Homo sapiens: one gene and its partner. The protein of the gene in region 2 interacts with the protein of the main gene of each other region in a biochemical or structural test. Each region holds a gene or a part of one and is shown on either strand. Other genes may lie near its edges.

Region 1 (3,500 bases), on a different chromosome or scaffold from region 2:
ACAGGATGAGTGTTATCTAGAATAGTAGTAACCCAATGTTCTATCTGAAAGTTACTTGGCATGTGTGCGTTCTCTGTCTTCAAGTCCATTTTGGGGCAAGGTGGTGGCAAACTGCACAGCCCTTGATTTTCAGGGACTGACTCCGCAATCAGAACCATGCAACAGAAAACGGCCTATTACTGACTTTCTGCAGGCTTTGCTCATGGAATGGGCCTGCGCTGGTTTTTGATGTGAGAGCCAACTTCATTCTGCAATGACAGAGTTAAGACTGCCCGTCAAAAAACTATTTTCTTTTGTAATCCCAGCACTTTGGGAGGCCAAGACGGGCGGATCCCGAGGTCAGGAGATCGAGATCATCCTGGCTAACAGGGTGAAACCCCGTCTCTACTAAAAATACAAAAAAATTAGCCGGGCGCGGTGGCGGGCGCCTGTAGTCCCAGCTACTCGGGAGGCTGAGGCAGGAGAATGGCCCGAACCCGGAAGGCGGAGCTTGCAGTGAGCCAAGATGGCGCCACTGCACTCCAGCCTGGGCGACAGAGCAAGACTCCGTCTCAAAACAAAAAAAAAAAAAAAGGCAAAAAAAGGCCGGACGTGGTGGCTCACGCCTGTAATCCCAGCACTTTGGGAGGCCAAGACGGGCGGATCCCGAGGTCAGGAGATCGAGATCATCCTGGCTAACAGGGTGAAACCCTGTCTCTACTAAAAATACAAAAAAATTAGCTGGGCATGGTGGTGGGCGCCTGTAGTCCCAGCTACTCGGGAGGCTGAGGCAGGAGAATGGGGTGAACCCGGGAGGCGGAGCTTGCAGTGAGCCGAGATCGCACCACTGCACTCCAGCCTGGGTGACAGAGCGAGACTCCATCTCAAAAAACAACAACAAAAAAAATGTTCTTTTTGGTTCCATATACCTGCAAATAAACTGAAAACCAATGAACTGTACACTTAGGTAAGTGAACTGTGGTATGTGAATGACATCTCAAAAAGGCTGTTAAAAAATGTTCTGACTTTATTAGCTAAAGTAAAAAAAAAAAAAAAAATCACAAAAAAGAGGAAATAAAAGTTCCTGTTTTGCTGCATAAATCATGATGCTGATGTCATCCAGAAGAATTATGTCTGTTCAGGAGGACTTTGCAAGGTTTGTGCAGATGCAGTTTAACCTGGATTTTTGTGGTCATATCTATGGAGCTGGGATCAGGAGCCAGGTCCCGGGGCCAGAGGGACTTTGAGAACTCACTTGGAACAGGGGCTGATCACAGTCGGCGTGGGTGGGTAAACCAAGGCAACATTTACTCGCTCGCTGCCGTTCTTGGGGCAAATGATCTCTGCCACTCCTTCCGGTCTGGGCTGACTCAGCAACTCCCCTGTAGGAGGAGAGAGAAAAACGTGTTAGGGAGATGTGCACTAAAAATGGGCTCATTTTACAAAGACAGCACTGCCCGGGGATGGGGGCAGGGGGAGAAGGGCAGAGGTGAAGCAACGAAGGATGTGAGAACAAATGTGCAACCAAGAACAGCAGAACTGCCTGGGCGCCGGCTCCAGCGCCTAAATCCTCCTCTGCGTCACCGTGGAGAAAATTTTCATGGTTATGGCAGGAAGGCCCACACTAGACAAAGACAGCATCTGTCACTGCTCTGCTCACCTTCCTTTTAACAGACTGACTCCAGGGATCTTTATCTAGATATCAACGACTGAGCCAGAGTCCCCAGAGCCCACCGAAGCAAGGGCTGCCAAGGAGGTGTTCATAATTAGGATTTGGGGCAGATGGGACTCAAGCAGACCACAGCAACCATTCAACAAAGCCCTATATAAATGATCTGGAAACACAGCAGACTAAAAGTGTTAAAAACACAAACAGCCTAAGATCAGCCCAGCCTCCTCTGGGCAAGGGGATTGCCCTGATAGGTATGTGTGAAGCAGATGCACGACACAACACTATCTAACGAGTCTAGCAAAAACACATAATTAACCTAATGGATCACCACAATACTTAAAGGAACGCTATTACTCTGCATGCCCTGGATGTAATCTCTCTTCAACTAGATCATTACATCTCTAAAAGCAGTGATGACTTCCATTCTCTCATCCATATACCCAGGGCACCCTGCCCTTTCTCAGAGAGTACTCAAGAAACAGCTCCTGGCTGCAGATGGGACACATTATTGTTCAAACTGCCCTACTTAAACCTAGGAACTAAATTTTTTGTTGTTGTTTTGGAGACAGGCTCTTGGTTTGTCACCCAGGCTGAAGTGCAGTGGCCTAATCACAGCTCTCTGCAGCCTCAATCTCCCAGGCTCAGGTGATCCTCCCACCTCAGACTCCCAAATAGCTGGGACCACAGGTATGCAGCACCACATCTGGCTAAATGTTAACCTTTTACTTTATTTTTGTAGAGACAGGAGTCTCGATATGTTTCCCAGGCTGGTCTCAAACTTCTGGCCTCAAGCAATCCTCCCACCTCAGCCTCCCAAAGTGCTGGGATTACAGGTGTGAGCCACCATGTCTGGCTTCTAGAAAGTCAATTAACCAAATCAAGGATGTGAAATGTACACCAACTGGGGAAAGACACTACTGCAATTACAACTTCAACTCTCTGCACCAACCACTTCTACTGCTGACTTGAAATTCTAGAGACTCCGGGCTGGGCGCGGTGGCTCACACCTGCAATCCTAGCAGTTTGGAAGGCTGAGGCAGGTGGATCACAAGGTCAGGAGTTCGAGACCAGCCTGGCCAATAAGGTGAAACTCCACATCTACTAAAAATACAAAAATCAGCTAGGCATTTGTGGCAGGTGCCTGTAGTCCCAGCTACCCAGGAGGCTGAGGCAGGTGAATCGCTTGAACCCGGAAGGCAGAGGTTCCAGTGAGCCCAGATTGCGCCACTGCACTCCAGCCTGGGCGACAGAGTGAGAATCTGTCTCAACAACAACAAAAAAAAAAAAAGAAAAGAAATTCTAGAGACTCCAAAGAAGAGCAGTCCCCCCTTATCCCTCAGACATGCGTTCCAAGACCCCAGCGGATGCATGAAACCGAGGACAGTACCGAAGACTATACAGACTATGTTTTTGCCTATAAGTAGATACCTATGATAAAGTTTAATTTATAAATTAGGCACAGTAAGAAATTTACAACAATAAATAGGACAATGATAATATACTGTATTAATAATTAAACTTTTATGAATATGGTCTCTCAAAAACTATTATTATGCTGCATTCACATGTATTTGGACCACAGTTGATTGCAGGTAACTGAAATCACAGAAAGTGAAACCATGGATAAGGGGACCACTGTATCTGCTGACGTATAATGATATGAAATTCCTTTGCTTCAAAGTACTGTATTTCTGGCTGGGACAGTGGTTCATGCCTCTAATCCCAGCACTTTGCGAGGCAAAGACGGGTGGATCGCTTGAGCCCAGGAGTTCAAGATCAGCCTGGCCAACATGGTAAAACCCAGTCTCTACTAGAAATACAAAAATCAGCCAGGCATGTTGGCGGGCAC
Region 2 (4,816 bases):
CCATCCAATGTTCAGCAGGCATTTACTGTCATGTGGCACTCAGCTAATCATTTTATATGCATTATCTCTTCTAATCCTTCAACAACCCAACAAAGGAGCTACTCAGTATTCCCATTTTATAGATAAGGAAACTAAGACCAAGAGCAAGAGGGTAGCCTACTTGCTCAAGGTTGTGTAGCTAAAAAGTGGAGGAGTTGGGATTTAATCACAGGTTGTCAAACTTCAGAATCATGGAAAGGACCCTGGAAGTCCCCTTTTTCAGTAGCCTCCTCTCACGTATGAGTCAACTGGACACTGCTGAAATGAAGCATCTTGTGAAGGGTGTCTCCACGAGTCCCAGGCAGAGCTGGGAAACTATCTCCTAATTCCCTACTAATACTTTTTCCTTTACACTCATGGGGACACCTCCTACCACCCCAAGGAAGCTTGTCCAGATTCTTTCCTGTGTGCTGAACAAATGTGAGTACATATCAGAAACACAAAGATAAGACCCTTCGAGAAAGCCTGCAAAGGATGCTGGAGGTTAAGGAGAGAGGTAGTAGATCATATGACACAAGTGGAAACTATAGAAACAATTTGACACATGAATGCAAAGGTGGGGAAGTAGAAGACAGAGTGTACCTGAGACTGAGTGGACAGCCAGGAAGCCTTGTGCCGAGTGTGGCTCCAACGCAGAGCACACACACAGTAGTCGGTGTAGGTTAGGGGCTGACATCAACTTTGTGATTCTCTTCGAAATAAGTTTTTATGCTTAAAAACATTCTCCTCAGATCAACTCATATTCAAAACAGTGTAGTTTTCAGAGTTGGAAACAAAGCAATTCGGCCATTCTTCAGAGAGTAAGATGGCTTTTGTATCAATAACACTGAGTTGGAAGGATTTAAAATACCCTTAAGAGCTGGCATGATTACAAATCGGGCATTATTGTGGTTTGGGTTGTATTGTTATACCCAAGGTCTTCTTGGTTCTAGAAAGCCGAACCATGCTAGTAGCCAGTGGAATTTAAGGAGACCCACGTGGGAACTTTAGAGTTACGTCTTTGATATCAGCAGAGTCCCACAGAATTGAGAACTTAGACTGGAACTTCTTATTTTTCTGTTTTCAGATAGCAGTGAGCTTCCCACATGTCCATATCCATGAAGAAAAGGGACACTGGGTTTGGGCAGGAAGGGCGGGAATGGTGAGAGGTGCAACCCTGAACACTTGCGGTGTGAGAACCGATGGCCACGTGGGGAAGTGGGAAAAGACTCAGAAGGTTCGCTGTTCTTCATGCTAGCTCAGTGACCTCAGATGTGTCCCTAACACCTTCTGAGCCTCTGTTTCCTCTTCTGCAAAACTGAGATGATTCTATTGGGAGTGAAAGCTAAGTGGAGAAGTGTACCTTGAAAGGGCTTTATAAAGAAGAGTGTGATGATTATTCTTCTCATGACATGAGTTTTCTACTTCAGCATGTGGCATTTCTTTGGTTGGCTCAGCCCTGGTTCTCCTCGAATGCCCTGCAAATGGGTCCAAGGCCGTGTGTGCTGGCTGCTCCTTTTGAGAGCTGGACCTCGGGCATCTTCCTAGTCTGCCCCTTCTAATTCCTCCAGGCAGTTCCCTTCATGGAAATTATTAATCTGCGGGCTTTTTCTTTTGAAGAAACGCTAAAGAAAACACCAGAGGACTCTGTGTTTCCCTCTGGGAGTCTCAGCAGTCTTTCAGCCTCCATGGGTTTCTGCCCTGTGGCCTGGAGTCAGGGTGCCACGTCGAGCTTGCTTCTGACTCTGCCCTCAGCTAGTTCTAACAGAGTTCCCAGGCCATCTGGAATGAGGTGTCAAGTCCTGGCCTGCACTCACAAGTGCAATTAAGACCAGTCTTTTTAAAAACAACTGTTAAAGGCAAAGGAGAATTTGGATCTCATCATATAAAACAGTTTTAAGCAATCAACTACTGGTGATTTGATTCATGAATATGTAATTTCAAAGCATTTACCATTTTGAACAAAGAGAGATTCCTTTACAAATACATATGGCAAAAACGTTTTTTGGGGTGTTTATTTTGGGGTGTTCTAGTCAGGAAGGGTACCAGGGGTTGGGGAGGTATAATTCTCCCATGCTCTCAACAGGAAAGGAGAATCAGTTATGGGGAAGCACTGGGATCTTCATCAGTAGAGAAGCAAAAATATAAAAAAGGGGTTGGCTTTGACTGCTTTTTTGAATTTCTCTTTGACAACGGAAACTTCAGCTGTGGATTGAAAAGACGGACTCCGTTTCCCACTGCTTTCTCTAACATCTTTTCACTATGGTTTTAACAGTTGCCATGTCAGCTTATGCATAGATGGACACATCTTTGAAAAGGTGCCACTCTTGGGCAATGAGCAAGAGGGATCCACTGTTTACTTGCTTTCCCTCCTGGCTTAACTGTGCTTTGCCCACCCTCCCTTCCCAGCCAGGCTAGTGCTGCCAGAACATTTGGGTTCTGCAAATGGGTCCAAGGCCATGTGTGCTGGCTGCTGCTTTTGAGAGCTGGACTGCGGGCACCTTCCCAGTCTGCCTCTTCTAATTCCTCCATGCAGTTCCCTTCATGGGCAATGAGTTGTGTCAGAACCTCACTGGGCAGCATTGGAAGTCATAAGCAGGTGCTGTTGAGTCAAGTCCATATATTTATTGAACAGCTACTGTGTGTTCAGAACTGTCCCAGATGCTGGGGAGAGGGAGATAGGTCAGGGGGTCCCCTACCATTTTAGAGCTTATGATCCTGGTAGGAGAGAACAGAGTGGTGCAGAAATGCCTACACATCTGGCAGGATGTGGTGATGATTGAATGAAGACAAACAAACGGAAGGTGCCGAAAGCTGAAGAGTTTGAATTGGGAAGAGTTCTTCCATTGGTTCTATCGGGGTTGACCTAGCATTACAAGAGTGAGTAAGACTTCTGGTTGATGTAGGTGATGGGAGAGAGCCTTTCAGTGCAAATTACCAAGGTTAGCAGAGCTATAGTAGTGAAAAGGTACAGCCTTTTTGGTCCCCATGCTTAGAAGTAAACCTCTACTTACCCGTATCTATCAGTGATGTGTCTTCCTGGTTTCCTCATGGGGAATATTGAAGCTCTTTCATTACCTTTAGGTTGCTGGTTCCTTGAGATCAAGGACTATGTATTTTTCTCCCTTTATTACTACTCATGATGCCTGGGAGAATGCTTTCTTATGTAGTGATTGAAATTCTTGTATCATTACAAACTGTGTTTTTGGTAAGTTTGCATCCCTAAGAAACTCTTTTCAGTAACGATTTCCACAGTCCTTCATATGATCTTGAAATATGATGCCTACATCTTTGTTTACCTGCCCAGATATTGATCAGTATGGTAACTCTGCTCCAGTGGTTGCTTGTGTGTTTCAATCACGCATGATTCTTATTGGCCACATTGGGGCAGGAGGCGGCACATTAGAGGGAAGAAAAGGAGCACCCAAAGGCTGATCAGAAGAAGCCAAACCAGCCTAGTTGGTGGGGAAGTTAGTAAAGGTGGCAACAAGTTATATATGGGCATAAAAAAAAAAAGACAATAAGCCCTTGAGATACTGTGTAAGCCTAAATGATGCAAATTATGGAGCACGATGGAAGGAAAAATACAAGTGGGAAGATTATCAAGAAGCCTCAAAATGAGTCAAATCAGATTCATGGCTGAACCACTCTAAAAATATTTACTTGACGTTGAAATTTAGTACTGACAGCTGAAGTTGAAAAATCTTTGTTATATTTCTGTTTTGTGTTAAAATGAAGATGACACCCAAGCTATCACTTTGTTCCCTTGGAATCCTAGGGTACACATGCCTTGTCACGTCAGAATGATTGATTTTTCCTTTGGCTTTCTCACTACAGGAAATACCAGAAATAGCCCACCACCCTACGGGTTTCATCTCTCACCAGAAGAAATGAGGAGACAGCGGCTTCACAGATTCGATAGCCAGTGAGGTGGCATCTTGGGAAGACATGGCCTATTCGTGTAATTATTGCCCATTTGGCTCATTCCCCAAGCCCCTAATTCATTTTAATTCATTTTAAACAAAAGCAGAGTACACCGGTATTGCTCCAGATCGCTCACATCACCTGGGACAGTCCCATGGCCCCTATGAGTCAACTCACAGCTTGCGGGGAGTGGGCCTTCTCCTGGCCTTGTTCTTGCTCATAAACAGGTCACTTCCTCCATGAAGAGACCAGTTTCCACGCTCCCATCTCTCACTGCTGACTCAGCGATGCCTCTGCCTCGGTCTGCTTTTGAAGACTGTGACCTTCACCAGGAGGTTTTACTTACACCAGTCGGGAAGATTAGTCCCTCATTCTGCCTGGAGTGCCCCGTGTTTGACTTGGCAGCGGGTGTGGAGCCATCCCCGCGTCCTCCTGGCGCATTGCCACTGTGGCTGTCCAGGAACAGGATGTGGCTGCCTTGGCCGAATGTTGTCCTACTCTCCCCAACCCCGGCGCCTCAGCTCCTCAGCTCCTCGGGCCCCTGCGTCTGGCTGGTGTTTGCAGGGCTTTCGCTCTGCTCTGGTATTGCTCTGCCTTTATAGAAAGTCTTATTGAAGAAGTGTAAGAAAGACCTAAGGTGGGGAAGACTCCTACACACACCATTAGTATCAGTGACACCAGCAATGTAGGTTCCCAGCCCCTTCCCAGTGGCAGCTTGTGTGTCCAGGAGATAGGACATCATTTAACGCATCAGCAAAGTAGCAGCAGATGCCACATACAGAGTAGAGCGAAGGCATTTGGTGGATCGGTCACTAGAGATCTATCTTGCAGAAAGTATGTTTTTCCTCATAAAAGTGCCTCTTAATTGGCCATT

What was found. The genes of interacting proteins can lie anywhere in the genome.
Region 1: the proteins of RHBDD1 (region 2) and MFHAS1 form a complex in vitro, tested with the Homo sapiens proteins (one large-scale study listed by BioGRID and IntAct).

What each region holds. Positions count from the first base shown.
Region 1 is NC_000008.11:8,796,131-8,799,630, forward strand, and holds part of MFHAS1 (malignant fibrous histiocytoma-amplified sequence 1), read right to left. Parts: intron 1,362-3,500; coding exon 1,235-1,361; intron 1-1,234. UniProt on the Homo sapiens protein: Probable GTP-binding protein. Functions in innate immunity and more specifically the inflammatory response as a regulator of the Toll-like receptor TLR2 and TLR4 signaling pathways.
Region 2 is NC_000002.12:226,991,576-226,996,391, forward strand, and holds part of RHBDD1 (rhomboid-related protein 4), read left to right. Parts: intron 1-3,855; coding exon 3,856-3,947; 3' UTR 3,948-4,816. UniProt on the Homo sapiens protein: Intramembrane-cleaving serine protease that cleaves single transmembrane or multi-pass membrane proteins in the hydrophobic plane of the membrane, luminal loops and juxtamembrane regions.